Linked DNA regions of Homo sapiens: all the other regions are linked to region 1. Evidence: fine-mapped expression QTL. A gene starts in region 1. Each other region holds a variant in brackets. All regions are shown on one strand. Distances are from middle to middle.

The links. PIP is the estimated chance that this variant, and not a neighbour inherited with it, causes the effect.
Region 2: its variant is fine-mapped to the expression of LCN12 in uterus (GTEx, PIP 0.91).
Region 3: its variant is fine-mapped to the expression of LCN12 in aorta (GTEx, PIP 0.98).

Annotation. Positions count from the first base shown.
Region 1 is chr9:136,947,213-136,955,383 of GRCh38, forward strand. It overlaps LCN12 (lipocalin 12), which reads left to right and starts at 5,061. Exons shown (of 6, transcript NM_178536.4): 1 at 5,061-5,229; 2 at 5,680-5,816; 3 at 6,488-6,567; 4 at 6,636-6,752; 5 at 6,942-7,043; 6 at 8,159-8,171. The coding sequence starts at 5,116. RefSeq lists silencers at 2,458-2,557, 2,578-3,077, 5,701-5,882.
Region 2 is chr9:136,967,313-136,975,483 of GRCh38, forward strand. LINC02692 (long intergenic non-protein coding RNA 2692) reads left to right here and starts at 2,100. Exons shown (of 5, transcript NR_157392.1): 1 at 2,100-2,161; 2 at 2,574-2,747; 3 at 3,652-3,731; 4 at 4,186-4,264; 5 at 5,365-5,572. It also overlaps LOC124902312. RefSeq lists enhancers at 655-1,156, 1,157-1,656. The variant C/G (reference allele first, on the strand shown) is at 4,979.
Region 3 is chr9:136,703,995-136,712,165 of GRCh38, forward strand. No RefSeq gene overlaps it. Among named protein-coding and RNA genes, the nearest start is that of DIPK1B, 4.5 kb to the right of the region's middle. The variant T/C (reference allele first, on the strand shown) is at 4,278.

The sequences.
Region 1 (8,171 bases):
GGCCATTGTCCTGCAGCCCCCGGGCTGCTCTTCCGCCCCCGTGGGAGGCCAGCTGTCTCCCGTCACTGCCCATTTTGGCCTCTTCCGAGCCGAGCTGGCACCAGCTGGCCCGTGTTGGTGGCAGCAGTTGGTGCTGTCCACCCACAGCCACTGCACTCTCTGCACACCTCATCCACTCCCACGTCCCCCGTGAAACCAGGAAGCAGAAGAGAATGTGGGGGTGGGCCAGCTCTGCCCTCGGGGCAGCCCCTGGGCTAGGGCCGGAGAATCAGGAACCCGGCATGGCTTGACCATGCTGGGCCTGGACCTGGCCGCTAAGCTGCTCCTCTCAGGCCCTGCCTGCGGCCACTGGCATTTGTTTGATAAGCATTTCTGAAGGCCCACTGTGTGCTGGGCCCTGGGACCACCAGGTGGGCTGGTCCCTCCCCCTAGGAACTTACAAGTCCAGGGATCAGCCACCAATCGGCCACAGTGGGCAGGGATGGGAGGAGAAGGCACCTTGGAGTTGGTCCCAAAGCACACGGCCTGGGTGGGGGCAGGGAGGAGCCAGCAGCTGCTTCAGGGGGGTCCCCATCCCACGGGCGGGGCTCCCCCTGCCGTGCCCACCTGTTCACTAAGCTGCTAGACCCCAGGAGGGCAGGCAAGTCAGGTGGTGGGAAGGGGAGGCAGGGGCCCTGACTGCCGGGACCTGGGAAGGAGAAGGGCCCAGGAGGTCGTACCCTTGCATCGCCTTCCCCCACTCCAGCTCCATGTCCCAGAGACCCATGAGATAGCAGGGCGCAGCAGAAGGGCTCAGGGTTCAGAGCTGGCAACGCCGGGAAGACTCTAGGCCTGAGCCCCAGGAAAGCCTCCTCCATGCCTGGCCCCACATCCCCCAAACAGAAAGTGAGGGTCTCATCTGGGGGCAGGAGGAGTCGGGTAGCTGGCCACGGTCACAAGCTTCAGGGAGGGCTGAATGTCCGAGGGGTGGCGCCAGAGACCCACCCGATGACCTTGGGTGCTGTGGTTGGTGGCAGAGTGGCCCAGCCTGACCCTCCACGCCTCTGACTGCAGGGCTGGGTGGGTTCCCGCACTGAGTGAAGTGCGTGGCCACTTGGCTGTGTGCTCTGGGACCAGAGGATGTGCAGCGCAAGGATTACAAGGCATTTCATTTTCACAGAAGCATTGAATGAGCTCTAGTTAAATTTCAAACACTACATAAAATCACGATAGCTCTGTGTGAATCATTGTTCTTTAAAATAGTTTGCATAATTTGGCTGGGCGTGGTGGCTTACGCCTATAATCCCAGCACTTTGGGAGGCTGAGGCGGGTGGATCACTTGAGGCCAGGAGTTCAAGACCAGCCTGTCCAACATGGTGAAACCTTGTCTCTACTAAAAATACAAAAATTAGCTGGTCATGGTGGCAGGCGCCTGTAATCCCAGCTACTCCAGAGGCTGAGGCAGGAGAATTGCTTGAACCCAGGAGGCAGAGGTTGTGGTGACCCGGGATCATGCCACTGCCTCCAGTCTGGGCGACAGTGAGACTCTGTCTCAAAAAAAAAAAAAAAAAAAAAATCTATGGAAATGGCTGGGCGCTGTGGCTCACGCCTGTAATTCTAGCACTTTGGGAGGCTGAGGCGGGCAGATCACTTGAGGTCAGGAGTTTGAAACCAGCCTGGCCAACATGGTGAAACCCCGTCTCTACTAAAAATACAAAAAAAATTAGCCAGGCGTGGTGGTGGGCGCCTGTAATCCTAGCTACCCAGGAGGCTCAGGCAGGAGAATCGCTTGAATCCAGGGGACAGAGGTTGCCGTGAGCCGAGATCGCGCCATTGCACTCCAGCCCGGGTGACAGAGCGAGACTCTGTCTCAATTTATTTAAAAAACAACAACAAACAACAACAAAACTATGCAAACTGGCTGGGCACAGTGGCTCACACCTTTAATCTCAGCACTTTGAGAGGCTGAGGCAGGAGGATCGCTTGAGGCCAGGAGTTCAAGATCTGACTGGGTGGGCAACATAGTGAGACCTCATCTCTATTTAAAAAAAAAGTTTTTTCATCTATAGAAACTAACATTTAATTGTTAGCAGTCTTGCCCAAGACCTGCGGGGTCAGGAGTCCAGGACTGTCCTGGGTGCCCCCGCCTTGCCTGGACGTGAGAGTGCTGTGTGGGGCCCCGGGAGCCCCTGGTCCCACAGGCAGGGCCGACAGGCAGGTGCCGTGCCCGTCCTCCCTGCCCACGCAGGTGCTCAGAGGGACAGGTGGGCCAGGACTCCTCCATGTGGGGACGAGGCACCCTCCTCCCCAGCCACGCCCCAACCACCCCTGGCCCCCCACCCCACCCCCAAGGGGCCTCCCAGCGCCCAGGACCGTGTCTGGGAAAAGGTCTTTGCCCGGAGAGTGGGAAGAGAGAGGGGAGGGTGAGCAGAGGACAGGCCGGGAGTTTTCCGGGAACGGAGGAAGAGCAGTGGAGGGTAAGTCTGTCCTTGTTGCTGTGGGGAGGCCGAGATGAAGGCGATGGGTTGGGGGTGGGGGTGCCGGGGAGCGAAGCAGAGGGAAGAGAGGACCTGATGGGAGGGGTCAATGGGAGAGGCCCCAGGGACCGGTCCCCACGGTGGGCTGGGGGTCCAGGGTGCTGAGTGGAAGCGGCGGTTTCCCTCCCGCCTCTCAAGGACGCCTTGCAGAAGGCGCGGCTGCTCCTCCCCGTGGCACGCAAGCTCCCGGGCACCGCCTCCCGCCTCGGCCTCCCAAAGCGCTGGGCTCACTGGCGTGTGCTGCCGCGCCCGGCCCGCCCACCCCAGGCGGTATGGAAGGCCGAGGTCAGAGCCAGGACTCCCCCGGGAGCCCCGCAGGTGCCTCAAGGCCCGCGTCCTGCACGGCCCGTTCCAGCGCCGCCGGCCCAGCCAGGCAAAGGCACCTGCAGGGCCCTGATTGGGCGGCGGAGGTCACGTGCCCACCCTCCACCAATCACGTTAGACGGGAGGAGCAGCACCTGCGTCTGCCCCGCGGTGGGGGGAGGAGGCGCGCCGAACCCATTGTCGTGTCCGGGAGGCTCCTGCAGGGGACGTGGGGGGCACAGAGGTTAACGGCAGCAGCCAGTGGCTACCTGGAGGCACACACAGACCCCCCAGGGCGGCAGGAGTGGGTCTGGGGGAGGGAGCATGGGGCCTGAGGCGCTGCTTGGAGCCGAGGGACCCTCCTCTGTGTCGAGGACTCGGCCCACCCGACCTCTGCTGCTCAGTCTCTGTGGGTCTCGGGCTGGCCAGGGAAGGCCCGGTTTTCCTCCCGCAGGGCCCTGCATGGGCGGGGTCCGTAGCGGGGACTGTCCTGTACATGGGCTGTGTGCTGTGATCCCAAATCTCCCCAGTGCCCTGCGATAAGACGGGCTCCGGGAGGGGTGCCTGCTGCGCTGAGAGCGGGACCCTGGGGCTGCGGACAGGCGCTCCTAGGCTGGCTGGGGCCAGGGGGATGGTGGAGAGTCGAAGGCGCCTTGGGGAGTTCAGGGGAATGAACAGATTATTTCCAACTTTTCCTTCCCTGGGCCAGCCTCCTGAAACGCTAGCGTTGTGCTGGTGAGACAAGGCACAGCAAGCTGCCCTTCTACGTGGGCAGTGAGGCCTGGGACAGAGCCCAGCCCTGGAGCCCTGAAGTCCTGGGGGCTGGGCTCTTCGAGTGGCCAGGCTGGGGCTGCCACCCAGGGCAGGCTGCCGAGGCCCAGGGCACCTCCTGGGATGAGCCTAAGTCCCTTGTAAGCAGGGCTGGATGAGGGGAGGAGGTGGCCAGGACAGGGAATCTGGGGTGGGAGGGGGCAGCCAGGACAGGGACCTGGGGGGCCTGGACAGAGGCTCACAGGCCAGGCACACGGTGAGTGGGAGGCACCTGGCTCACCCTTGGTGACCCCTAACATGGAGTCCAGCACCCAGAGGCTTCAGCTACCTGTGAGGATGGGAGGAGAGGTCAGGAAGGGGACTCCACTCCCTAGCCCCATCGTCCAAGGGGTGCCAGGGCAGCTAGAAGCCCCAAGCCTGCCATTGCCCTCCCTGCCAGCCCTCTGTTTACATTTTATTTTTATATTTTTAGAGATGAGATCTCAGTCTTGCCCAGGCTGGAGTCCAGTGGCACAATCATAGCTTACTGCAGGCTCAAACTCCTGGGCTAAAGCAATCCTCCCACCTCAGCCTCTCAAGTAGCTGGGACCACAGGTGTGCACCACCACCCCCAGCTAACTTTTAAATTTTTTTGTAGAGATGGAGTCTCGCTATGTTGTCCAGGGTGATGTCAAACTCCTGGGCTTGAGAGATCCTCCCACCTTGGCCCCCCAAAGTGCTGGGATTATAGGCATGAGCCTCTGTGCCTGGCCTACTAATCCTTTCTTTTAGGCAGGACCAGCATGGGGTGCCCACTCCCATTAGTGGGGCTTCCCAGCCCTGCCCCTCCCTCTGGGCAGAGACTGCGTTTAAAATGCCCCAGCTGTCCTCACCAGGTTGCCTGGGTGCTCTGCAGGCCCCAGCCTCCCTCCTCGCCTGCTCGGGCCACCTCCACCCCGGCCTCATGGCCACAGGGCCCCTCCCTGGTCCTGTTCTTGCTCCAGGGCCACGGCCCACGCTGCGGTTCAGGCATGTGTGGAGCCAGGCAGGGTGGGGGTAGGGGGGCGGCTGGCAGGCCCAGGCCCTGCAGGGGGAATGCCCGGGTTTGGCCACAGCTGGGCCCTGTCCCTTATGGCTGCGGCAGGTCACGCTGTCTGCCTGGGACGCAACATTCTGTGACAGGGAGGAAGGCTGGGGCAGGCTGCGTGGGGCCTCTGAACCCCCAGCATGGGGCACTTGGAAGGGGGCTGAAGGGGGCAGGGCCTCAGAAATGAGAAGAAGAGGTGGAAGGTGGACCTGGGGGCCCCTCCTACCCCACCTGGCTGGAACCCAAGAGACCGCAGGTGGGTGGGTGGGACCTGAGGAGAGCCCACACCAAGCCTGCCCTGGGCACCACCTCTCCTGCCAGTCCTGAGGAGGGAGGCAGAGGGGCACACCCCCTTGGGAGGGGCACCTGCTGGGTATGTGCATGAAGAGGTGGGTCTCTGGGTCACCTGCCCATGGCCACTTCCTTCTCTCTGTCCCTGTGGGCCCAGCAGCTGCCAGGATGAGGCTGCTGTGTGGCCTGTGGCTGTGGCTCTCCTTGCTGAAAGTCCTGCAGGCCCAGACCCCAACCCCCCTGCCACTCCCGCCCCCGATGCAGAGCTTCCAAGGAAACCAGGTACAGGGGTTTTGACGGAAGGAGAAGCAGCCGGCTGGGTCTGAGTGCAGGGAGAGGCTGGTGGCTGAGCAGGCCTGGGGATGCTGCCCAGAGAGCCAGGACCAGCCGTGCTTCCAGGAGCCCCCAGGCGGGCCCCTGACCTCCAGCAGAGGAGGGCCCAGCGCAGACCTTCCTGGCACCCATTCCCTGCCGTCAGCCCAGCCCATCGCTCCCTCTGTGCGTGAGGGGAAACAGGCTCGGGAAGGCCGCACAGCCACTGGCCAGGGTCACCATGTCCCTGCCAGACCCAGAGTAGGCTCTGGTTCTTGCCAGTGTCCCTGGCGCCGGCCCAGCCAGGAGCACTGCTCTGTGAGGGGTCCAGAAGCTGCCAGGGAGGGCGGGAGGGGGCTCCTGACCCTGCCCACTGCCACCCCTGCCCACCGCCGCCCCTGCCCACCACCGCCTCTGTAGTTCCAGGGGGAATGGTTCGTCCTGGGCCTGGCGGGCAACAGCTTCAGGCCGGAGCACAGGGCGCTGCTGAACGCTTTCACCGCAACTTTTGAGCTAAGTGATGATGGCCGCTTTGAGGTGTGGAATGCGATGACTCGGTGAGTGGCTGTCCCTGCCGTTCCAAGCGGGTGAGGAGGATCCCGGGCCTGGGTCCCAGCCGCCAGTGGCTCAGGTGCGCCATGGGCCCTGTCCCAGCACAGGCAGCTTCATGACTCTGCCTGCCAATGACCAAACCCAGCTGGGGAGTATACAAAAAAGTGTGGGCAGCTGGGCGCGCTGGCTCACACCTGTAATCCTAGCACTTCGGGGGCCGGGTGCGCTGGCTCACACCTGTAATCCCAGCACTTCCGGGGCTGGGCGCGCTGGCTCACACCTGTAATCCCAGGACTTCAGGGGCCGGGCGCGCTGGCTCACACCTGTAATCCTAGCACTTTGGGGGCCGGGCGCGGTCGCGCACACCTGTAATCCTAGCACTTTGGGGGCCGGGCGCGGTGGCGCACACCTGTAATCCCAGCACTTTAGGGGCCGGGCGCAGTGGCGCACACCTGTAATCCCAGTACTTCAGGAGGCAGAGGCAGAAGGATCACTTGAACTCAGGAGTTTGAGACCAGCCTGAGCAACATAGTTAGACACCATCTCCACTCATGACGCTTGGCCACTCCCGCCGTGGGTCCCTCTGAATAAGTGGCTGAAATCTCCTGAGGGGCCCACCTCAGCATGGACCTGCCAGCTTCCGGAGCCTTCCGCCTCCACCTGTCCCCTCCTACAGAGGCCAGCACTGTGACACATGGTCTTATGTGCTGATACCGGCAGCCCAGCCTGGGCAGTTCACTGTGGACCACGGTGTGGGTAAGCCAGTCACAGGAGGGAGGGACGGGGTGCTGGCCCACAGGGATGTGACGTCTGTGCCGCCTCAGAGCCCGGGGCGGACAGAGAGGAGACCCGGGTGGTGGACAGCGACTACACCCAGTTCGCCCTGATGCTGTCCCGCAGACACACGAGCAGGCTGGCCGTCCTCAGGATCAGCCTGCTGGGTGAGCCTCCCACCCCGTCCTGGGCCCGTGTGTGGCCCTGGAGGCACCTCCTTCCAGGCTTTGGGTCAGACCCTGCCTCCCCACCCCGCCTGGAGTGACTTGGGGGTACAGATAGTTCAATCTCCCACCTACCCAGCCCCCAACCCCCTGCCAAGTGCACAGACCCATGCTGGGCTCCCTGGGCTGCAGGCAGGAGCTGGTTGCTGCCTCCCGGGACGCTGGACCAGTTCATCTGCCTGGGCAGAGCTCAGGGCCTCTCGGATGACAACATCGTCTTCCCAGATGTGACTGGTAACATGGTTCACCTGCAGGCATGCTGGGCAGTAGGCACGGGGCCCGCAGGAATGAGTTTGGTTGACCCTAGAGGAGCTGGACCCAGTGTCTACCCAGGGAGCTCAGCCCCAGCCTGCGCTCAGGGGTCTCCAGGCTCCTGGGTCCCTGTGCTCAACCCAGGCTCTGAGCCACCTCCTGCCGCCCCGGGTCCCCTGTCCTGGGCCACCTCCTCCCACCCCGGGTCTCCTGTCCCGGGCCACCTCCTCCCGCCCCAGGTCCCCTGTCCCGGGCCACCTCCCCCTGCCCCTCCCGCCCCAGGTCCCCTGTCCCGGCCCACCTCCTCCCACCCCGGGTCTCCTGTCCTGGGCTACCTCCTCCCACCCCAGGTCCCCTGTCCCGGGCCATCTCCTCCCTCTGGGTCCCCTGTCCTGGGCCACCTCCTCCCCTCACCCATCCCTGCTCACAAGGAGCTTGGACTCATCCCAGGAGGTGCCCTGGACCTCAGCAGCCTGCCCTGGGTGGCAGCCCCAGCCTGACCACTCAGACAGCCGCGGCCCCCAAGGCCTGACTCTTCTTGTGGGAGGGCGAGGTCAGCCTGAGTCCCTCCTCTTCCTGGAGGGATGCCCACCGTGCCCTTCTGATTCCCGCCTCTGGTCCTTTACATGTGCATAACCACATGCACACACACTCACGCATGAGCAAACGTGTACAGACTGGCACATGCCTCCACATGCGAACACCCACTTACACACACGCCACTCACACTGGCACACATGCTGTCTACCCGTGCACAGGCACACGTGCTGGTCTGCACACACCTGCACACACCTGCACACTCGCTATGCCAGGCCTCCTGGGTCTGCAGTGAGTCTGGGGGCCCATGGGGACAGGGACAGGTGAGGGGCTTCCTGAGGACCTGGGGCTGTTGGGAGCCGCTGTGGGCCACATCTTCTGCCCCTTCTCAGCCTCCCTCACCCCAGCCCCTTCCCCTAGACCCACTGCTGGTCCCCTTTCTCCCTCCTGCTTCTCACCTGAAGCCACCTGCCCCTCCTTTGTGCCCTCCCTTGCTTCCTCCTGGGCTCTGTCCCCTGCTCCCCCTTTGTCCTCCATCCCGACTCCATCTCCCCCACCAGGCTGGTCACCCCA
Region 2 (8,171 bases), 20 kb after region 1:
TGGATCTTCCTATTACATCTTTGTTTCTGTTTGTTTTTGTTTGTTTGTTTTTTGAGAGAGTCTCACTCTGTCACCCAAGTTGGAGTGTAGTGGCTCGATCTCGGCTCACTGCAAGCTCCACCTCCCGGGTTCACGCCATTCTCCTGCCTCAGCCTCCCAAGTAGCTGGGACTACAGGCGTCTACCACCCCTGAACCCGGAAGTTGCAGTGAGCCAAGATCATGCCACTGCACTCCAGCCTGGGCGACAGTGGAAGATACTATATCCAAAAAATAATAATAATAATAAAAGTTTACATTCAATAAATAAAATTTTTAAAAGGATATTTACATCAGTGTAGTATGTGAAGTAAACAAGAAAAAGATAAAACTCACTTTTTAAGTAAAAACAATGAGTCATGTTCTTGAAGTATGTTGTAATCTTTAAATATCAGAAAATTAAGGGAAGTTAATTTTTATTATTACTATTATTTTTTTTTGAGACACAGTCTTGCTGTCGCCTAGGCTGGAGTGCAGTGGTACGCTCTCCGCTCACTGCAAGCTCTGCCTCCCAGGTTCACGTCATTCTCCTGCCTCAGCCTCCCGAGTAGCTGGGACTACAGGTGTCCGCCACCACGCCCAGCTAATTTTTTGTATTTTTAGTAGAGACGGGGTTTCACCATGTTAGCCAGGATGGTCTCAATCTCCTGACCTCGTGATGTGCCTGTCTCAGCCTCCCAAAGTGCTGAGATTACAGGCATGAGCCACCGCACCCGGCCCCTATTACATCTTTGTTTCTATTTGTTTAATTCTCGGTCTGGTGAGGGTCAGCCCCCACCAAGGGTCCTGGCAGTTTCCCTTCTAGGCTCGCCCCTCCCCTGCCCACGCCCCGGCAGCCCTCACCCCAGCGTGGCTGGGCGGGTGGGGGAGGGGCTTCTTCCTGGGAGGGAGGGGCCCCTGAGCCCCCTGCACACCAGCCGGGCCCCATCTGTGACCTCTTTGCCACGCCTCTAATACCGCTCGCTTGCTCAGAGGGCACATGGCCGGGGGGTCCTTGGGAGTCTGTGCAAAGCCTTAGTCACATGGAGGGACCTGAGGGAGGCTGGATGTGGAGGAGACAGTGAGAGAAGGTGAGGTCCCCGTGTCATGTCACCCACCACCTGCCGGCCACCAGGTTCCTGCCTGGGACAGCTGAGCCCTGACAGCCCTCGGCGAGGAGGCCCGGGCTCTCTAGCAACCTGGCTGCAGCTCCTGACACAGGCTGGGCTGCCCTTGGCCCAGGGCCCTCCAGAGATAACCCAAGTGCCCTGTGAGCAGGCCTGAGGGAGGGTGGGTAGCCCAGGACAGGGCACCTGGGGGTGAGGCAGAGACCAAAGACCCACAAGATGCTCCCCAATGCAGGCTGAGCTCCAGGGAGCTGCTGGGATCCTGGAAGAGGACAGAGGCCCCCCAAGGCCTTAGAGGAACCCAGAGACTGCTGGGCCCAGTGGGAGGTGTCTGGACCCTCCAGCCTGCGCCCACGTCCTCTGGCCCACCTGCCCATCGTGCCTCTGCCAACGGGCCCAGAGCTGACGCACCCCCACAGCCCAGCGCCCGGGTCACCAAGTCCTGAACTCAGAAATGCACATATTCCCTGGGACCCCTGAGAATTGGGCTGTGGCCAGGCCAAGGCCAAGGTCCTCTGGGGAAGCCCCAGCTAAGGTCAGCAGCGGCCTCCCAGGGTCAGCCATCCCCAGGGGCCTCATTACAGGACCAGGGTGGTAAGAAGTCCGCAGCCCCGCACAGCAGCTGTCGAGGGGAGGCAGATGGGCTGAGGGCCCTGGGGGAGTGGGGCCAAGACCTGCTGCACCCAGGAGAGAGGAGGCTTGGAGGACAGGGGTGGGGCTGCATCTGGGAGGTCCTGGCCCAGACTGGACCCGTGGGCAGAGCAGGGTGGGTGCCAGCAGCCTCAGCACAGACACACTCCGTCCCACCCACCACCAGCGCTCTGGAGCCTGCCCCGGGCCAGGGAACAGCTTGGCCTGATCCTGCTGACGCCTCAGGGCAGGACAGGGCAGGGAGGCTCCAGGCGGCCACCCATGCTGGGCACACAGTGGACTCTCGCACGGTGTCTTCTGCCGTCACACCCTGACCCAGGGCTGGCCGGGAGCCTTCGGGGCGACAGCTCCGAGGATGGACGTAGGGGTACGAGGGCAGGGACCCGGGCTTTGGGAATCAGAGCTGAGGCCTGGGGCCTCCCTGGGAGCTGGTGGTCTCTGCGGGTGCCCACCCTCAGCCCACATTTCCACCCCGCTTCCCCTCCCAAGGTTGAGACCAGGGAATGGTGGGCACCAGTGGAAGGCACGCTCCTCAATCTTTGCTGGGCTGAGTCCAAGGAGGGCCCCCTGCCTCCCCAGCCCAGCCTCCCTCTGCCCTGCCTCGCCCCTTAGCCCCGCTGCTGAGGAGGGAGAGGGGCAAAATCTCACCCTTCCTGCACTTGGAGAAAAAGAGGTTGCTTGTCCTGGGGTGGGGGCCAGCAGGGGACCTCGTTACTAGGGGGTCCCAGCCCAGACCCTCACCCACCCCCTTCCCCACCCCCATCCTCACCCCCTGCCAGGCCAGCTGCTGCCCCAGAGTCCTGCCCCCTGCAGCCCTGTGTGGAGCCCTGGGACTCCTGTGGGTGGGCCTCACCCTGCTGGGGACGGTCCAGCCACAGCGCCAGGGCCCCCAGAGGGGCCTGAACTTGCCTTTCCACAAGATCTGTCTCCAGCCTGGCCTCAGAAAGGAGCGGGTGAGTGGCCTCCAGGATGGGGAAGGAGGAAGGAGGGTGCAGCTGGGCCGATGGGCCTGACTGCCACAGTGAGCATGGCCCTCATGGCCCTGGAGAACCCTGCCAGGTGGGAAGAGCTCACGCCCTCTGTGCAGGTGGAGAAAGTGAGGCTCAGGAAGGCTGCCCACCCACTGGCCAGGGTCACCCATCCCTGTCAGATCCGGACTCCTGCCAGAGTCACGGGTGCCAGCCCAGCCTGGAACCCCTGCCTGGGGAGGGGGTCCTGGCCCTGCCCACTGCCAGCCCCTGCAGTTCTGGGGGAGTGGTGCGTCCTGGGGCTGGCGGTCAACACTTTCAGGCCGGAGCGCAGGTCCCAATTCAGGATGTTGGTGGCAGCCGTGGTCATGTCCAGCCTGCTCACCTGAGGCTGGGTGCCCAGAGCCCCTGCCGGGTGATGGGACTGCCCGGGGAGGGGAGACGGAGGGCTGTGGGGTGGAGACCCTTCATACAGACAGGCAGGTGGGTGGACCCCGTGGGTGGAAGGAGGCAGCGCCTGCCTTGAGGGAGCTCACCCACACCCTCAGCACAGCTGTGGGGCCCCTGCTTCTCCCCCGGGGCCTGCAGTTTGGAGGAGGAGCCTGTCCTGAGACCCAGGGGCAGGGGAAGATCAGGGCAGGGTGCAGGGCCCAGGGACATGGTGGCTGTGGCTGGGACATCCCAATTCCATGCATCCAGTGAGAACTTCCACGGGGAGGGGACGTGGTCAGAGGCGGGGACAGGCAGGCTGCCAGGAAGAGCAGCCTCAGGAAGAGTGGGGAGCAGGACCCTCCGGGAGGCCAGGAAGCCTCCCCTCCCCAGCTCATCCGACCTGCCCCTCCCCAAAGCCTTCACCCCAGCCTCTCCCCACCACAACCTCCTCCCACAGGGACCCACCCTGCAAACGCTGGGCCAGGACCCCTGTCCCGGAGAAGCAGCCAGCTCAGAACCCCCTTGGAGGCCGGGAGGGTGAGTCTTCCCTGCCTGACACCCCAAGAAAGGCCCAGAACTGCCCCAGGTTAAGGTCACTCCACATCTGTAATCCCAGCATTTAGGGAGGCCGAGGCAGGAGGATCAACTGGGGCCAAGAGTTCGGGACCAGGCTGGGCAACATGGGGAGAGCCCATCTCTACAAAAATAAAATTGAAAAATTAGCTGGGTGTGGTGGTGCATGCCTGTAGTCCCAGCTACTTGGGAGGCTAAGGAGGGAGGATTGCTTGGGCCCAGGAGGCTGCATTGAGCTGTGACCGTGCCACTGCACTCCAGCCTGGGCGACAAAGCAAGACCCTGACTCGAAAAACATAAATAAATTAAAATGGACACTCCAGGGAAGGTCTTGGTGTGGCCCCAGAGGGGGCATGATCAGCAGCCTGTCCCCAGCAGTAGGGTCCTGAGCCCTGCCTGACCCGCCTGCTCCGTGCAGAAGTGGGGTTGGAAAATGACGAGATGGAGGCTACGCCGAGACCAAGCGCCAGGAGAAGGGACCCAGGCCAAGCTGCTCGGTGAGGCCCTGAGCACGGCGGGAAGGGGCCATGCAGGACCCCCTGAGGGCTGGGCTGGGGAGGGAGGGGTCTCCCCAGGGCTCACCCCCCTTCTTGGCACAGGGCAGGGGAAGGAGCTGGATTTAGACCTGAGGGAGAAATTTATCAGATTTGACCAGATCCTGGGCATCAGCCTTGACCACATTCCCTTCCTGCCCCAGACTGGCCCCGGCAGGCCTTGGGGGTGTGGGGTAGGCAAGCAGAGACCACACTGATGCGGGGAGGTTGGCCCAGAGCCCTGCAGGCCAAAGCCTGGGGCCGGGCAGCAGTGTCCGCCGAGGAGAGGGTGTCTGGTGCCTGAATGACACAACCTGAGAGGCACCAGCCCCAATCCTGTCCGTGCAGCCCAGCGGGGAGGACTGCCCAGGAGACCATAGGGGTCCGGAGGTCAAGGCCAGGTGCCAGAGGGTCCTGGCAGGACCCGGGGTCACTGGAGGCACCCCACGTACACGGCAGGCGGAGGGGACGGCAGTGCCGGAGGAGGGGCTGCAGGGAAGCCCTTGTCAGCCCCCATTTCTGACCCAAGGGCCTTGGCCGGGAAGGCCAAGCTTGAGGCAAGAGGGTTCTGAGCTGGAAGAGGCCAGGCCCCCCAGACGCAGGGGCCCCGTGGGAAGAGGGAGGCCATGAGCTGAGGCCACAGCAGCTGAGGCTCTGAGAGCTGAGAGTGAGCTGGGG[C/G]CCTGCCGGAGCCTCGCTACCAACTGCTCCAGGTGTGGGGGACACTGCGGGGCCCAAACCTGGACACACCTGCGGCCTGGAGTGTCCCCCCCACCCAACCCAGGGCCTCTGAGGGTCTCTGCCCAAGCTCCTGGGTCCCCTGTACTGGGCCACCTGCAGCTCCCAAGGCAGCCCTGGGGGCAGGCAGGAGCCCCCGGGTCAGAGGTCGTGCGACCCTGGCCTTGGACCCTTGGGCCTCTGACCAGCACTCCTGCCTCACAGAAGAGCCCGTGGTGAGCCACGAGTGTGACTGCCAGGGGTCCTGGGGGTCCCGGGCCACTCTGGGATCCACGAGGCCCTCCTTCCTCCTGGCCCTGGCACCCCCTCCACCCCTCTCTCTCCTGCAGGTCTCTGCTTCTCCCTCCTCTCACTCTAGCCCCTCCGTGATTCTCTGCCTGGGCCGGCCACCCTCTGTCCTGAGGACGCTGGAGCCTGGCCCGGCCCTTGGCAGCCCCACCCTCACCGCCCATCCCAGCCTCGCTGGTGCCCCCTCCACGTGGGAGGCTCAGCCACACCTGCCCCCACGACCCCATCAGAAATAAACAGTCTGTGCCAGGAGAAGCCGGATCCGACTGTCCTTGAGCACTGGGTGATGGGTGGGCAGGGCCTCGGGGAGCAGCCCAGGTTCCAGGCCCAGGAGGAGCTGAGCTCGGACATTTGTCCTCATCTAACCCCCAGTGGCTGCCTCCCTCCCAGCTGGGTGCTCTCCTGGCCCGTCCCACGCTCTCTGGTGAACAGAGCCAGATTCATCCTCAAACATAGGCCACCCTCCATGGCGCCCAGCAGAAACTGCCCTAGGCTGGAGGGCTGGGACCGTGGGGTGACAGAGGCTGCGGAGGCCTGTGACCAAGGGTCCCTGCCCAGCTCCACAGCACCTGGCAGCCCTTGCCCCTGCTAGGAGCGCCCTTTCCTCACCGCTGGCTCTTCTCAGATCTGTGGCCCCATCCCCCTGGGTTGCCTCAAAGGAACCCCAGAGTGAGAGGCAGGAGCCCCCATCTCAGGGGCGTGGGCCCAGGCTCCCTGTGTGCCACCCCACGTTCCCCCGATGGGAGGCAGGAGTCCCTGAAGATCCAGGCCCAGCCCTGACCGGGGGTGGGCACAGAGGTGGGGAGCAGCCTCTGGGATCGGGTCTCCACCTGTGCCCTGCCGGAGCCAGCCCCTGCGCTGAATGGTACTTCCGGCTTCTGGTCTCTGTGGGGAGCGGTGCCCAGCCTGGTGCTACAGTGACCCAGGGGTCCTTAGGCGAGGCCCTCCCAGGCTTGGCCCCTGCCCAGACCCTGCCCTCCTGGGGAGCTCCCGCCCAGCCCCTAAATGGGTGAGGTGGGGACACTTTAGCCCTGACCTTCCATGGCCGAGCTGGGCGCTTCCTGAAGCCAGACTGGGCCTCAGAGGTCCACTGCACCGGGATCCTGGAGCTGAGCTTCTCGAGGCCAGGGGTGTGGGTGTGGTGTCGGGTGTGGGTGCGGGTGTGGTGTTGGGGGTTGGGCCGCCCCCTCCTCCCGGCCCTGCTACCTTTGGGATGCGGCAGCCTCTGACCAGCCTGCTGGACCCCACATTGGACAGATCGTTCAGCACCCCCAAATTGCCATCTGTCCCCCACAGACAGCCAGCCTAGCCCTGGCTCCAAAGCTGCAGAATTGGCTGAGGCTTGGCCATAACCGTCTTTGGACCCCATGGCCAGCAATGCACATATGAGCCTCAAGTCCCAGGGACATATCTGCTCCCCTATCCTCTGGCTTGTCCCGGGCTGCCCTGTCCTCTGCGCCGTCCCCGGCTGCTGGGCGGGCCTGACCTCCAGGGTGGTGCTGGGAGAGGTGGCCAGAGGCAGCCAGAAAGGGTGAGCGGAGAGGTGGCCGTCCCCCATGTCAGTGAACACCCAAACAGACAGGCACAGAGAGGAGGGCTGGGTGAAGAGTGGGTCCCATGTGCTTTGAGCAGCTCAGAGATGCCCTGAGGAGGGGCTGTCCCACGTGGCCCGTCCACTCAGGCCTCCTTCAATCACAGAGCAGCTCCCTTGACGCAGGGAGGCCTTGGGGAGAATTTCTTGCCCCTAGAGGAGCCCTGAGCTGCCCCCACCGCACCCGGCCCTGGTCTCCCCGGCTACAATCTCAGGGGTGCTCCTGCTCTGCCCCTGACTTGTCCAGAACACTCCACAGCGTCTCAGTGATCCCGGGCACTGCCCTTCCCTATGGAAGATCCTCAGCGGGGCAGCTCTGGCAGGAGTGAGCCTCTGGGGCCGTGAGGCTTGGGTACCTCTGAAAGGTGGGGTGTAGAGGCTGCCCCTCCCCAGTCCCAGGCTGGGGGAGTTGATCCCAGGCTGCAGGTGGGTGGGGCTCACGAGGTCCCCATGAGTTTATTTGAGGCTGGTGGACACTCAGTCGAGCTCAGCTCCCACCAGTCACTGGGACAGCCTCGGCCCTCAAGGGCAAACCATTGGTGGGGATGCTGGACAGGGTCATCACTGCCCCCGGAGGATGCTGGCCGGGGCCCCAGGGTGGAGACAGCTTCCCTCCAGGAAAAGGTTGGGGTCAGTTCTGGGAGCTTAGGCCCAGGCCACCAGGCTTGTCCATGACCTGCCTGGGCCGCAGGCAGGGGGATGGCCTTGGTGACCTCTTAGGGTGGAGGCCAAGTCTTTGCATTTTGTGACTCAAAGAGACTGGTTCCCAGAGAGCAGGGTGGGGCGGCCAGCCTTCTTCCTGCCCAGCCCTCCGCCAGGCTCCACTAAGGTCCTGCCTGGCAGCCAAGCTCAGAGCAAAGGGAAGGGCACAGAGAGTGTGCAGGGTGGTCCTTGTCCCTGCCCAAGCTGCAAGAGGCTCTGCGAAGGTCCCTCCTGCCCCTGTCCACCTTGCACAGTCCTAGCCGGGGGAGGAGGGGAGAAATCTGGCGTGCCAGGAGCTGGCAACTGCCCAGCCCTTCCTGGATGTGGTGAGAGATGAATCTCCAGCCCTCGGGTGGGCCCAGGTGCACCCATGAATCAGGGCTCGTGGGCAGCTCCCACTCACTGGTCCTCACTCAGCCGTGTCTGGGGAGTGTCTCTGACCACCTGCTGGCCATCTTGACCACAGGGACTGAGGAGTCCGTCCTGAACCGAAGCATGATCCTGTTAGCTCTTCCAGCTCTCCAGGCGCCAACGACCATATGGTCTCGGTAACGA
Region 3 (8,171 bases), 240 kb before region 1:
CTCCCGGGTTCAAGTGACTCTCCTGCCCCAGCCTCCCGAGTAGCTGGGATTACAGGTGCCCGCCACCACCCCAGGCTGATTTTTGTATTTTTAGTAGAGACGGGGTTTCACCATGTTGGCCAGGCCGATCTCGAACTCCTGACCTCAGGTGATTCACCTGCCTCGGCCTCCCAAAGTGCTGGGATTACAGGCTTGAGGCCCCGTGCCCGGCCAGGGGTCTCCTTTATAAAGGCCCTGATCTCATTCATGAGAACTCCACCCTTATGACCTTGTCACCTCCCAAAGGCACCACCTCCCAAAACCATCTATATTAGTCCATTCTCACATGGGTACAAAGAAATACCTGAGACTGGGTAATTTAGAAAGAAAAGAGGTTGAATTGGCCCACAGTTCCTCAGACTGTACAGAAAGCATAGCGGCTTCTGCTTTTGGGGAGGCCTCAGGAAACATCATCGTGGCAGAAGGTGAAGGGGACACAGGTGTGTCCTACGTGGCTGGAGCAGGAGGAAGAGGCACCACTGAATTTTATTTATTTATATTTATCTATTTATTTATTTTGAGATGAGTTTTGCTCTTGTCACCCAGGCTGGAGTGCAGTGACACGATCTTGACTCACTGCAACCCCTGCTTCCCAGGTTCAAGCGATTCTTCTGCCTCAGCCTCCCGAGTAGCTGGGACTACATGCACCTGCCACCATGCGTGGCTAATTTCTGTATTTTTGGTAGAGAAGGACTTTCACCATGGTGGCCAGGCTGGTCTGGAACTCCTGACCTCAGGTGATCTGCCCGCCTCGGCCTCCCAAAAGGCTGGGATTACAGGCGTGAGCCACCATGCCCTGCCCGGCTAGATTAAAGTTGTTTAAAGCAAAATAAGGAGCAGTCATTGCCTGAGGCCGTCTCTGTACTGGGAGTTCCCACTAACCAACAACAACTTTATTCAGTAGTTTGTTAACAGATAGCCAGGTTTCAACCAATCAATCACGGGCAGCCAACCAATCAGACCACACCCAAATAAGGCAAAGGTCTTGAGTTATTTCTTTTCTTTTTTTTTTCTTTTTCTTTTTTTTTTTTTTTTTTGAGACAGAGTCATGCTCTGTTGCTCAGGCTGGAGTGCAGTGGTGTGATCTCGGCTCACTGCAACCTCCGCCTCCTGGGTTCAAGCGATTCTCCTGCCTCAGCCTCCCGATTAGCTGGGATTACAGGTGCACACCACCATGCCCAGCTAATTTTTGTATTTTTAGTAAAGACGGGGTTTCACCATGTTGGCCAGGCTGGTCTTGAACTCCTGACCTCATGTGATCTGCCTGCCTCGGCCTCCCAAACTGCTGGGATTACAGGTGTGAGCCACGGTGCCTAGCCTGGCCTTGAGTTATTTCCGTACTTCACTTCCACATTCAGCCTGTAAAAGCCTGCTGCTCACACTGCTAAGACAGAGCTCCCAGAGCCTCTTCCACCTTTGAGTGCTGCCTGATTCATGCCTCCTTTAATGCTCAAATCAACTCTGTTACATCTATTTTGTCTAAAGTAGGAAGAATCCTCAAATAAGATTGCCACTGGGACACCAAGCTCGAGTTGGCCAAATGGTGCAAACTCCACAGATCCAGCTGAAAACAACATGGCAATGGCTACTAAGCCATGGGGCTCCCAAAACTGAAGTAGATGGGTCAGCTGTGAGAAGCTCACTGCCTGGTACGGAGCATTGGATGGATTGAAAATCATGGAACAGTCCCTGGCTGAGTCATGAGCCGTTGCCACGCTGCCTGAAAATAAACGCAGAACCTTGTTCATGGACTTCCTCCTTCCACCTCTCACCCCCCTCCACTTACGTTAGGAAGAAAGATGATTAGAGGTTCCCAGGCCGTGGGCACCATCCAAGTGTGCTGGAGAACTTGGAGGAGAAGAAGAACTCAAACTTTATGGCTCTGTCGGATATGAGTAGCCCACATCACTCTCCTGTTTGGACCAGTGGAAGGAAAAGTTCTCTGGATTCCGCTCACCGGATTTGTGCACGGTTTGAAATGGGGAGTGAAGGCTGATGTGATCTTGTGGGTGTGGCATTTTGGGCCAATTCGATGCCCTGTTTTTGATGCTTCTATGTGTGTGTTGCCGCGTAGGAGCTGTGTTTCATCCCCATACTTCCATCCTGTACGTGCCAGAGGGGACTCTCCCTATTGGCAAGCACTGAATGCAGAGAAGGGCCAGTGGGATGTGTGAATCTCTCTGCAACCCGCTTTCAGGGCGGGTACAGAATCCCAGAAGCGGTACAGAATCCCAGAGGGAAAAAGGCGCATCAGAGGTTTGATTGAGGGATTAAGGGCAGTAGGGGGACTAAGAGATGAAATATGGGGCTGGGCGTGGTGGCTCACGCCTGTAATCCCAGCACTTTGAGAGACTGAGGCCGGTAGATCACTTGACACCAGGAGTTAGAGACCAGCCTGGTCAACATGGTGAAACCCCGTCTCTACTAAAAATACAAAAAAATTAGCCAGGTGTGGTGGCGGGCACCTATAGTCCCAGCTATTCGGGAGGCTGAGGCATAAGAATCCCTTGAACCCATCACTTGAACCCGGGAGGTGGAGGTTGCAGTGAGCCGAGATCGTGCCACTGCACTCCAGCCTGGACAACAGGGTGAGAGTCTGCCTCAAAAAAATAAAGGCTGGTCGTGGTGGCTCAAGCTTCTAATCCCAGCACTTTGGGAAGCCGAGGCGGGTGAATCATCTGAGGTCAGGAGTTCAAGACCAGCCTGGCCAACATGGAGAAACCCAGTCTCTACTAAAACTACAAAAATTAGCTGGGCATAGTGGCGGGCCCCTATAGTTCCAGCTACTCGCGAGGCTGAGGCAGGAGAATCATGTGAACCCAGGAGGCAGAGGCTGCAGTGAGCCGAGATCACGCCACTGCACTCCAGCCTGGGTGACAATCACTGGGTGACACTCCGTGTCAAAAAAAAAAAAAAGAGATGAAATATGGCAACACAACATCCCTGAGTGGCCAGTGGAGCAGGTAAGAGCTGCTGGTGGCTGACAGTGGATTACCACCAACAGAAGTCAGCCATTGCTCCCAGAGCCCTAGCTGTCCTACACACTGTGACCATACCGAGCCCATCACGTGGGCTCCGGGTACTTGGTACACTGTCTTGGATCCTGCCAATGCCTTTTTGCCACACCACTGGCAGGGGAGGAGCAAGACCAGCTTGCATTCACATGGCCAGGTCTCCAATACACTTAGGTGTGTTCCCCGTACACGCCCCGCCACTGGCCACCTGTGGGCAGGTTAGGACTTCTGATGTCCACAGGTGCCATGATACAGATGATGTCCTGCAGGTTGGCAGCTCAGAAGCCTTGGGTCTCTAGAACTAGACAACTAGACGGGGGTACTCTCATACCTCCCTGTCCACAGAGGCAGGCAAAACATCAACAGCGTCCAGTGGCTGCCTCACCAGGTGGAGTTTCTTGGGATGAGGTAGGTGGAGGTGGGTCCACAGCACTCACTGCCTCAGCCAGTCAAGGAAAACCTGTTGTCTCTTTGCTCCCTCATCTCACCCAAAAGGACAACCCAGCACTTGATTGGACTGTGTGGGTGTTGGAGACAGGATGTGCTTCATTTGGGCATTCGACTTGGCTTCTTAAATTAGTGAATCCAGGTCGGGCGAGGTGGCTCACGCCGGTAATCCCAGAACTTTGGGAGGCCGAGGGGGGTGGACCACCTGAGGTCAGGAATTTGAGACCAGCCTGGCCAACATAGCAAAACCCTGTCTCTACTAAAAATATAAAAATTAGCCAGACGTGGTGGTGTGTGCCCGTAATCCCAGCTACTCGGGAGGCCGAGGCAGGAGAATCGCTTGCACCTGGGAGGTGGAGGTTGCAGTGAGCCGAGATCACACCACTACATTCCAGCCTGGGCAACAGAGTAAGACTTGGTATCAAAAAAATAATAATATAAATAAAATAAATTAGTGAACCCACAAATCAGCCTGCTTACGTCAGGGCCTGAACCAACAGGCTATTCCAGCTGCCGCCCCGTGAGCCACAGGCCACTCTCTCTCCCGCTGGGGCCTCACAGCCCTGTGATCCCTTTGAACGACAAGTCCCTGTGGCTGACGATCCCGTTATCTGGAAACTCCAGAGAAAGAAAACAGCCTCTGCCCAGATGTGCCCCTTGGGGTGGTGGATTCACTGACTCTCTGACACGACTACTAGGTTCACCCCTTGTTTTCAAAAAGCAAAATTAGCTTACAACGAGCTCTTGTCCCAGTGAACCACCTGACCACGGAGGCCT[T/C]GTGACTGGAGCCTGACAGTCCCATTCGGAGGGTTTTCAACTCAGACACAACCACCACAAGGAAGGAGGGCCCTAGAGCTTCTCTTTGCAAACAGAAGACTCTGTATTCAACAGCAGCGGGCGGGTCCCCGGTGATATGTCAGCTTCTCATCGGAAGTGGCAGCTCTCCCTTTGGGGGAAACTTGACGCGCCGCACTCCACCGTCTGAGGGAAAGCTCGTGGCTCTCCAGGGCCCTCGATCCACCAGGGCCCCCTAAACGGCTGCTCACCTGGTGTGCTCACCGGCTTGCTGTCAATAAATACGTGGGTAAATCTCTGTTCGAGGCTCTCAGCTCTGAAGGCTGTGAGACCCGATTTCCTATTTCACACCTCTATATTTCTCTGTGTGTGTCTTTAATTCCTCTAACGCCGCTCGGATAGGGTCTCCCTGACTGAGCTGGTCTCAGCACGTCTCTACTAAAAATACAAAAAAAGGCCAGGCGTGGTGGCTCACGCCTGTAATCCCAGCACTTTGGGAGGCCGAAGCGGGCGGATCACGAGGTCAGGAGATCGAGACCATCCTGGCTAACACAGTGAAACTCCGTCTCTACTAAAAATACAAAAAATTAGCTGGGCGCCGTGGCAGGCGCCTGTAGTCCCAGCTACTCGGGAGGCTGAGGCAGGAGAAAGGCGTGAACCCAGGAGGCGGAGCTTGCAGTGAGCTGAGATTGCCCCACTGCACTCCAACCTGGGCAACGGAGCGAGACTCTATCTCAAAAAAAAGGTCTGGGTGTGAGTAGGGGATGCCTGGGGAAGAGACGCAGTTATAGCAGTTGGAATGGGACATGCCAGTTTTGCAGCAGGGCAGGGAGAGCAATGGGCCCCCTGCTTGGGGAGGAAACTCCCAGGCCTCAGGACGAATGGGAAGGAAAGACAGGGCAGGAAGGTCCTCCACTTTCAGAATTGTCCCCGGAGCCTGCCCCGAAGGTGTGTGTGATCCTGTGTCTCTGCGTCTGTGTCTGTGCAGTGGACCTTTCGTTTACCTGTCGTTTGCCCTGGCCAGGGTTTGAGCTCAGGGCCTCAGGCCACGAAAGGCCCTAGAAACAGCAAGGCACGGCCCAGTTCCCGCCCCCACACCTGAGATACCAGTCAGCACCTCCCGGGTCCTCTGCCCCATTCATGTTCCAGGCAGGTGGATGTCACCCATTGGTGGCGTAGAAACAAGGGCCCCAAAACGAGAACTAGACCCATTCAAACTGAACTGGAACCCGGCCAGTGCCCATTCCATGAACACTTGATGGGCTAGTGGCCACGGACAGTGTGCAGGTTCTGGGCCAGGCCTGCAGATGCAAAGGAGAACGTGGTCACTGGTCCCTGCCTGGAGGGAGCACCGCGTCCCGCGGGCCCTGCTGGGAAATGCCTTTTTGGAAGATCTCGGGGACAGGGTCACCCAGGGCCGGCTATGCGCTCACCAGGCACTCCTCCCAGGGCGGGCCATCTCCCTCCTGGCAGCCTGGGAGTGGCACTGAGGCTGCGCTCATCCTTCTCATGGCCCACACCTTCCCCAGATCCTGACCCACGGATCACGCTCTCCTGCGCCCCTCCCCCAGGAAGCCCTCCTCGGGAGACCCTCCAGAACTTTCTTGGCCGCGGTCTTGGCCTGGCTCACATTGACGGAAGGTGTGGGCTCCTGCACCCTCCAGCTGAGCTCCCTGCAGGCCGGACCGACCACCACTGCCCTGCACCCACTCCCCCTGGCCCTGGGACAGCCCTCCTGCAGGAGGAGGACAGGCCATGCAGGGAAGCACATGCTCTCCCAGCTGTAAACATGGCAAGGCCTCCCTCCAGGCCGGGAGAAGCCTACGTGTTGGCCTCTTGGTGCTTGTGCTCTGTGTCCCACCCTCTCGTACTGCTCTTCCCTTTCTTGGGCTCCGGGACCCTCGCTGGCAGAGAGACAGTGCTTGGATCGAGGGAGAGAGGAAAGGTCACTTGGGGACATGGCAGTCCCTCTTCCCAGCCTGGGCTACGGCTACCTTGGGGGTCACTGAGACTGGGAGGGTCTGCCTGCTACTTTCTCCCACTGGCCCCTCTCCCCTTCCTCACGTTGCCTCCAGCCCTGTCCATCCAGGTCGCTGGCCTAGGCCACTGCCACACCCCCAGGCCCACCCCTCCTTTCTATACCTGGCATAGAACCCTGACCCCATTGCCCCCTGGCCTTGTCCCTCTCTGTTTAACTCCCTGCCATGCAATTCTGTGGGGAGGGGCTCATCCTTTCAACAGATGATGCCAGAAGGATTGGATGTCCATGTGCAAAAAATGCTAACAAAACCCCCAAGCCCCAAACTGAAAACCCTCTGATCCACACCCTGCACAATACACAAAAGTTAACTGGAATTGGGTCATTGACTTAAATATGAAGCCGAATACTATACAACTTCTAGAAGAAAGCACAGAAAACCTTTGTGACCTTCGGTTAGGCAAAAATTTCTTAGAGATGACACACTCAGAGCACGATCCGGGCTGGTGGCAGTGGCTCACTCACGCCCAGAATCCCAGAGCTTTGGGAAGCCAAGGTGGGAGGATCGCTTGAGCCCAAAAGTTCAAGACCAGCCTGGGCAACATGGCAAAACCCCATCTCTACAAAACATTAAAAAATTAGCCTGGTGTGGCCAGGCACGGTGGCTCATGCCTGTAATGCCAGCACTTTGGGAGGCCAAGCCAGGCGGATCATGAGGTCAGGAGTGATCCTGGCCAACATAGTGAAACCCCGTCTCTACTAAAAATACAAAAATTAGCCGGGCATGGTGGCTTGCACCTATAGTTCCAGCTACTTGGGAGGCTGAGGCAGGAGAATCTCTTGAACCTGGGTGGCGGAGGTTGCAGTGAGCTGAGATCGCGCCACTGAACTCCAGCCTGGGCTACAAGAGTGAAACTCCGTCAAAAAAAAAAAAAAAAAAAAGGAAAAGAAAAGAAAGAAACTGTTAAGAGAATGAAAAGAAAGCCACAGACTGGGAGAAAAATCTTTGCAAATCACATGTGTAATAATGGGCAGATATCCAGAAGATATAAAGAAGTCTCGGACCAGGCATGGTGACTCACGCCTGTAATCCCAGCACTTTAGGAGGCTGAGGCAGGTGGATCACTTGAGGCCAGGAGTTTGAGACCACTCCGGCCTGGGCAACATAGCAAGACTCCCTCTCAAAAAAAAAAAAAAAAAAAAGTCTTGGCTGGGCACCAGGTGACTCATGCCTGTAATCCCAGCACTTTGGGAGGCCAAGGCAGGATGATCCCTTGAGCCCAGGAGTTCGAGACCAGCCTGGGCAAAACACTGAGACCCAGTCTCATTCTAGATATTAAAAATTAAAACCAAAATGTAAATAAGTCTCAAAACTTAATAATAAAGAAACAACGTGATTTTTATTAATGGTCAAAAACTTGAATAGACTTTGGAGAAGATACACAGGTGGTAACTGAACACGCAGAAAGTGTGTTAAACACGCGAACCACAGCCCCAGCGAGACGCCACCACCAGGGAAATGGCTAAAATGTAAAAACCTGCCGATAGCAAGAGCCGCCCGGGATGCGGAGCAGCTGGAAGCGCCGGCGGCCGCGGGGAGGGAGCGAGTCTTGGCAGCTGCTGGCTGCGCCCCACATCCCTCACCGTCCAACTCAGCCCCCCCAGGTGTTTACCGAAGTGCAATGAAAGCTTCTGTTCACACGGAACCTGCCTATGGAGGCGGCAACGGCTCATCCCCGAGCACCCCACGCGGAGGCGAAGGAAGTGTCCTCCCGGCGAGTGGCCAAGGCGCGGGGTCTCAGCCAGGAGGGAAGGGTCGGACCCCGGGGCGGGCTGCAGGCTCGGCCAGCCCAGGGCTCCGCGCGTCTGACCCCATCCTGAGGACCCAGGGGAAGGAC